Homo sapiens: one gene and its partner. The protein of the gene in region 2 binds, or shares a complex with, the protein of the main gene of each other region. Each region holds a gene or a part of one and is shown on either strand. Other genes may lie near its edges. A codon is read from its position in the direction of its gene.

Evidence for each region.
Region 1: the proteins of XCR1 (region 2) and GNAI1 are in contact, whole or in part, in a cryo-EM structure (PDB 9AST), measured with the Homo sapiens proteins. Residues at the interface, in NP_001019815.1 of Homo sapiens: Glu63 (codon at 1,102), Thr66 (codon at 1,093), Arg127 (codon at 910), Ser130 (codon at 901), Val131 (codon at 898), Pro134 (codon at 889), Leu135 (codon at 886), Leu138 (codon at 877), Val140 (codon at 871), Arg146 (codon at 853), Tyr205 (codon at 676), Leu212 (codon at 655), Ser215 (codon at 646), Ser217 (codon at 640), Lys218 (codon at 637), Arg219 (codon at 634), Arg222 (codon at 625), Thr223 (codon at 622), Leu226 (codon at 613), Ile227 (codon at 610), Val290 (codon at 421), Gly291 (codon at 418), Val292 (codon at 415), Lys293 (codon at 412), Phe294 (codon at 409); in NP_002060.4 of Homo sapiens: Glu28, Ala31, Arg32, Leu194, Asp315, Phe336, Thr340, Asp341, Ile343, Ile344, Lys345, Asn347, Leu348, Lys349, Asp350, Cys351, Gly352, Leu353, Phe354.

The regions. Positions count from the first base shown.
Region 1 is NC_000007.14:80,224,214-80,226,963, reverse strand, and holds the end of GNAI1 (guanine nucleotide-binding protein G(i) subunit alpha-1), read right to left. Parts: 3' UTR 783-2,750; downstream 1-782. UniProt on the Homo sapiens protein: Guanine nucleotide-binding proteins (G proteins) function as transducers downstream of G protein-coupled receptors (GPCRs) in numerous signaling cascades.
Region 2 is NC_000003.12:46,020,660-46,024,483, forward strand, and holds part of XCR1 (chemokine XC receptor 1), read right to left. Parts: intron 1,619-3,824; exon of another isoform or gene 1,497-1,618; intron 1,320-1,496; 5' UTR 1,289-1,319; coding exon 287-1,288; 3' UTR 1-286. UniProt on the Homo sapiens protein: Receptor for chemokines SCYC1 and SCYC2. Subsequently transduces a signal by increasing the intracellular calcium ions level. Receptor for XCL1/Lymphotactin.

The DNA of each region.
Region 1 (2,750 bases), on a different chromosome or scaffold from region 2:
AAACTGTCCTTGACAGTAGCTAAACACAAAGGACATTTTTGCCAAAGGTTCATGGAAAAAAGAGATAACACTTAATTAGAAAAGATGAAGCGTTTATATGACTTAAGTGAACTCTTTCGCTAAATTTGAGATAAGTCGTGTTTAAAACAGCCCTGGCCTGAGATTGCCAGTCAAATATGTGTTAGTAAACAGAATAATCCTTGATTTTGATTATCCACATACTTAATGCCAAGAAAAATCACAGTCCTAAAAAAAACTTGGATCCCAAGAAATTAGGTAGGATTGATGCTGCTTTTCTTCCATGTAAAGCTCTGCTTTCCATGTGAACCATAATGTATTTAAATAAAGTGCATTCAACCAACTTAATACAAGAGATAAAAATAGAATTACCTTAATGATGTGTATAAATAGGAACATGATGTGATTAAAAAATGATTTTTTTTTTTTTTTGAGATGGAGTCTTGCTCTGTCGTCCAGGCTGGAGTGCAGTGGTACAATCTTGGCTTACTGCAAACTCAGCTTCCTGGGTTCACTCCATTCTCCTGCCTCAGCCTCCCGAGTAGCTGGGACTACAGGCGCCCATCACTATGCCCAGCTAATTTTTTTTTGTATTTTTAGTAGAGATGGGGTTTCACTGTGTTAGCCAGGATGGTCTCGATCTCCTGACCTCGTGATCCGCCTGCCTCGGCCTCCCAAAGTGCTGGGATTACAGGCTTGAGCCACCGTGCCCGGCCAATGATTTTTTTCAAAGGCTGGATTATTAAAAATAATATGGACATAAATTTACTTTTTAAATGTCTTTATTGGATACATAATTTTAAACCAAAAGACAATTAAGTTGATATAAAATCTAGTCTTTTTTTTTCTTCATAATTGTTAGAGGGACTTAAATCAGGTTTAATCATTCAGGTTCTTCCAAACTTAAAACAAAAATAACATACTTTTCTAAAATATGTGTCTGGACAATTTCAACTAATTATAAATGAATTTATTCCCATATTCCAATATAGTAAACTTTTATTTGATGCACACTGTATCAAGTAGAAAATAATCATTCTCACAGATGTGTGTGTGTGTGCATACACATTCCAAGGACAAGGGTAGCTAAAATCTGCACATAAATCTAATTTTTCTCAGATCGATCCCATTAAACTAATGAACTCAAATCTTATGGAAAGTTTGAGAATCTAGTAAACTTCAAATGTATTGATTAGTAGATATGATTTTATTGACTGTTAAAGAGCAAACCATTTGCAATCTTCTGTCTTTATCAAAAAACAAAACATGCATGTAAGGCCTTGGAATATTTGATACTCTATCCTGATTTAAGTCCTGCAGATAGCAAATTCCTGTCCTCCTCCACACTCCAGGGAGCTACTCTTTCCAAAATAAGTTCAGAAGCTTTTTTAATGCATGACTGTGCTCAGCCCAGTCCTGTGGGAGGTGTGGAGAAAGAAAGGAATTTGGCTAGGGGAATTGAAACATATTAAAAAAACAAAACACAACACAATAACAACATTAAAAAAAACCCCACTAATCTTTTGATTTGGCTGCAGACTAAAGAGATGAGTCTGTAAACTGGATTTAATAATTTTCCAGTATCTTGAAGGGTCAACTCCCCCTCCATGTATTGGAACTAAAAATAAAGAGAGCTGCTAATTTCAAAACCCTGTTTTAGAGTATAGATCTTAAAATGTGTATGTCTCTCTTTTATTATAGCTGACATATTTAAAGTGAAAATGAGATGGGTTTTCCCCCCACAGGAAAGGCTATATTACACCAAACCAAACGATAGCATTTAAAACTGGAATAGTCCAAGTCTTTACTGAGGCCCACCATTTCCCAAGAAAGTCACTGAAGGTGTGATTTATTCAAGACACCAAGACCCACATCTTCCACATTCAAATTTTAGCATTCTATCCTTTTTAGTTTTTGTATGTGTTTCTCTAAAACTTGGGAACATTTCCATGCAATGCAAATAGAGTTGTTGTGGAAGAAAAATAAAGCATTTCATTTCCCAAATACAAATATAATGCAAAGACACATGAGTACCTATTTTCCAAAACCACATTAAAAATGTAAAAAAAAGTAGAATTTTAAAATTATATAACCCAATATATCACAAATCAGTTCAACATGTAATTTTTAAATTCTGTGTATCTGAACTCTTGTATTTTACACTAATAGGCCAACTCACTTTGGACTAGCTACGTTTTAAGTGCTCTGCATTCACACCTGGGTAGTGGCTGCTGTGTCTGTGCAGTTCCTATGTTTGTGAAATGGAGGGTTAACACACAGAGAGCTCTTTACTTCTTTACTGCACTGGCTTTTCACAGCCATTGACATGCTAATGTGCATCATGCATACTTATTAACATCTGTTCAGGCAATGCTGTTGGACATGCTGCACTACACCATGTGGCACCCTTGTGAAAAACTTCTTTATGCCATTGGATTTTGAAGATATGGCTAAGAAATGACACTGGATTTTGAAGATATGGCTAAGAAATGACACTGGATTTTGAAGATATGGCTAAGAAATGACACTGGATTTTGAAGATATGGCTAACAAAGGTCTTAACTCTAGATTTTACACCCAGCTCTGCCACTTCCTAGATAGCCAACATTGCACAAAATACTAACCTCTCTTAAATGTGTTTCCTTATATAGAAAATGGAAATTTTACCAATATTGCAGGACTGCTCTGATGACTAAATGAGAGCATTAGTAAGGTACCCAGAAAAGTACCTA
Region 2 (3,824 bases):
GATTAGAAACACATGTCTAAATGAAGGAGCGTGCAAGATGAACTCAGAGTTCAAGAAATGTTTTTTTGGATGGCAGTATAAAATTCCCAGGTAGGAAGCCACTTTCCCGCAGATGAGAGGCTGGCGGGACCCACTGGTGTAATGAATGACCTTCACTGCACGCCTGCAGCGGAGGAGACGTCTCCACCCTGCTGTGTTCTGCAATGCTCCTTCCAGGCCCGCTTCTCCATGACCCCCATTCCAGTCCCTGTCCACCTGCACCTGCGCCTGCACCGCCACAGGCCCCTCAGTAGAAGGAGGCGCCCTCATAGGCGAAGGCACCAGGGGAGTGGGGGATCGAGGCTGGGCTGGGTGCCTGCAGCCGGCAGAACCAGAACTGCCGGAGAACATGTTTCAGGTGTGTGCGGAACTTGACCCCCACGAAGACATAGAGCACCGGGTTAAAGCAGCAGTGGGAGAAGGCGAGGTTGCGGCAGATGAGCAGGGCGTATTCTAGCTGCTGTTTGGCCTCGCAGCTCCGGATGATCTGGGTCCGAAACAGCGTCTGCAGAAACAGGGTGAAGTTGTAGGGACCCCAGCTGAGGAAGTAGGCCACCACGATGGCGAAGATGAGCTTGACCGTGCGGTGGCGCCGCTTGGAGCGTGAGCGGAACAGGGTCCTGAGGATCTCCACGTAGCAGAACAGGATAATCCCCAGGGACAGCAGGAAGAAGAGGTTGTGCTGGTAGACGGAGGTGAGGTACCACGTGAGTTCGGAATAATCACAGCCCGAAGAAAGCACCTTGTGGAAGATGGTGTCGAGGATGGAGGACAGGATGCTGGCTACCCACACAGCCATGGTCACCAGCACCCGGCAGCGGAGGGTGGGGACGCGCAGGGTGGAGAGGGGGCTCACTACCGACAGGTAGCGGTGGATGGTCATGATGGTCAGGAAGAAGATGCTGCTGTAGAGGCTGATGGAGAAGATCATATTGAGGAGTTTGCAGAGGAAGTCTCCCAGCACCCAGCCCCAGTGGTATGGGGAGATCCACACAGGCAACAAGCAGGCGAACACCAGGTCTGAGAGGCACAGGTTGAGGATGAAGATGTTGGTGAGGGACTCCAGGCTCTCATACTTCACCAGGACCCACAGGACCAGGCTGTTGCCCACTAGGCTGAGGAGAAACACCAGGCAGTATAGGACAGTGGTGGCGAGGGTAGCAAAGACCCAGGCCTGGTTCTCACACGGCTGGCTCTGAAGGTCATAGTAAAAAAAGGTGGTGCTCTCTGGGTTGCCTGAGGACTCCATCTGGACCAGATGGCAGGGACGTTTAGAGCATCTGAAATGATAGAGACATGGAGTTTAAAGCCATGTGGTGGCTGGGTACAGTGGCTAACACCTGTAATCCTAGCACTTTGGAAAGGCCAAAGGGAGAGGATTGCTTGACCCCAGGAGTTTGAGACCATCCCAGGCAATATAGTGACACCCCTGTCTCTACAAAAAATTTAAAAATTACCCGGGTGTGGTGGCGCATGCCTATAGTCCCAGCTACTCAGGAAACCGGGGGGTGGGGAAAGATTGCTTGAGCCCAGGAGGGCGAGACTGCAGAGAGCTGTGATCATGCCACTGCACTCCAACCTAGGTGACAGAGAAAAACCATGTTTCAAAAACAAACAAAAAACCCAAAAAAGATGCCAGACTCTTAGTTAATTCTCTCCTGGATCAGAGAAAAGACCTGGAATGGGAAGGGGATTCTCTACAGAGTGTATTTTCCCCACAAGAGATAGCTTTCCAAGACCATTTCAAAATATTCCTATCTGTCATGTTGGTATCTTATTGCTACAAAGAGTCTATTCTATCAGGCTTAAGGGCTGCTTTAATGTTAATACTGGTCAGCTGTGCTGAATTACAAAAGGAGGAGAGTATAATGAGGCATGTCTGACTACCTATTCCCATCATGGCCTGAACTAATATTTCTTTAGAATGCCCTTCCTTGGCTGAGGAGTCCGTTCAGTTAGTTGTGAGGCTTAGAATTATATTTTTTATTTATAAAACTTAAATGCTTGTTAAGACAAACACCAAATAACCAATCAACACTTTTCAGAAAAATGAAACAAAATCCAGAGTCTACACAACATAACAATGTTTAGGACACAATCCAAAATTACTCAGCATATAAAGAAATAGGAAAACATGACCCATACTCAAAAGAAAAGACAATCAAGCAGCTGCCTGTGAGAGGGGCCACATGTTGGAATTTGTAAATATGTATCAAAATGTAACTAACTATTATACCTGTTCCCAAGGAAATAAAGGAAACTATATTCATAATGAATGGAGAGATAGAAAGTCTCAGCAGAGAAAGAAAAGTTATATAAAAGACCCAAAAGGAATTACAAATCAATAACAAGATATCAAGAAAAGCTTCAATAATTTGGAAATAATTTTAAAAACACCAGCGCGTGTGACGTCATGGCGCCGTGCGGGGTCGCGGCGGCGGCGCAGGGGGCGGGCCCGTGGCGCGGGGCCTGAGGAGGAAGTGGAGAGATTGTTGCTCCCTCTGCGCCCAGAGAGGACGCGGCTGCGTCGCGCTCCCCTGCGATCCCCTCCATGTTCCCTGGCCCCACCGCTCCCCTTCCTAAGGCTGCTGCTGTCTATGGAAGTAATGGAAGGACCCCTCAACCTGGCTCATCAGCAGAGCAGACGAGCCGACCGTTTATTAGCTGCAGGCAAATACGAAGAGGCGATTTCTTGTCACAAAAAGGCTGCGGCATATCTTTCTGAAGCCATGAAGCTGACACAATCTGAGCAGGCTCGTCTTTCACTGGAATTGCAAAGGGATAGCCACATGAAACAGCTCCTCCTCATCCAAGAGAGATGGAAAAGGGCCCAGCGTGAGGAAAGATTGAAAGCCTAGCAGAACACAGACAAGGATGTAGCTGCCCATCTTCAGGCATCTCACAAACTCTCTGCCGAGGATGCGGAGGGCCAGAGCCCCCTTTCTCAGAAGTACAGCCCTTCTTCAGAGAAACGCCTGCTTGAGATTCAGGGGATCTTTGACAGGGATCCAGACACACTACTATATTTACTTCAGCAAAAGAGTGAGACAGCAGAGCCATGTATTGGAAGCAAAGCCCCAGAAGATGATAAAACAATTATAGAGGAATAGGCAACCAAAATTGCAGATTTGAAGAGACGTGTGGAATTCCTTGTGGCTGAGAATGAAAGATTAAGGAAAGAAAATAACTAAAGGCTGAAAAGGCCAGACTTCTAAAAAGGTCCAGTAGAAAAGGAGCTGGATGTAGATGCTGATTTTGTAGAAACGTCAGAATTACGGAGCTTGCCGCCACATTCAGAAACTGCTACAGCCTCCTCAACCTGGCAGAAGTTTGCAGCAAATGCCGGGAAAGCCAAGGACATTCCAATCCCCAGTCTTCCTCCCTTGGATTTTACATCTCCAGAACTTCCCCTTATGGATCTCCCTGAGAATATTCTGAAAGGATTTATGAATAATTAAAATGGAAGGCCACAGAAGAGGGGAGAAGAGGAAATAATACAGTAATAGTTAATCCAGCAAAAAAAAAAAAAAAAATGAAAAGGGAAAACCACGTAGAAGGGGCATCCTGGTCCCGGAAATGTTTCATCATCTGGTGGACTGTGGGAGAATAGGCATTGCCAGGACTTGGGAAACAGTCACTGTGAAATGCGTTGCATATCTCATTCACTGACTTGAGCTAATGATTCCAACTTGATAAACACTAAACTCATGGAGGTTCAGTTTCTGCTGATACAAACCAAATGGCTACTTGGAATAATTTTTTTCAAGCAACAGTTATTTTTCTTA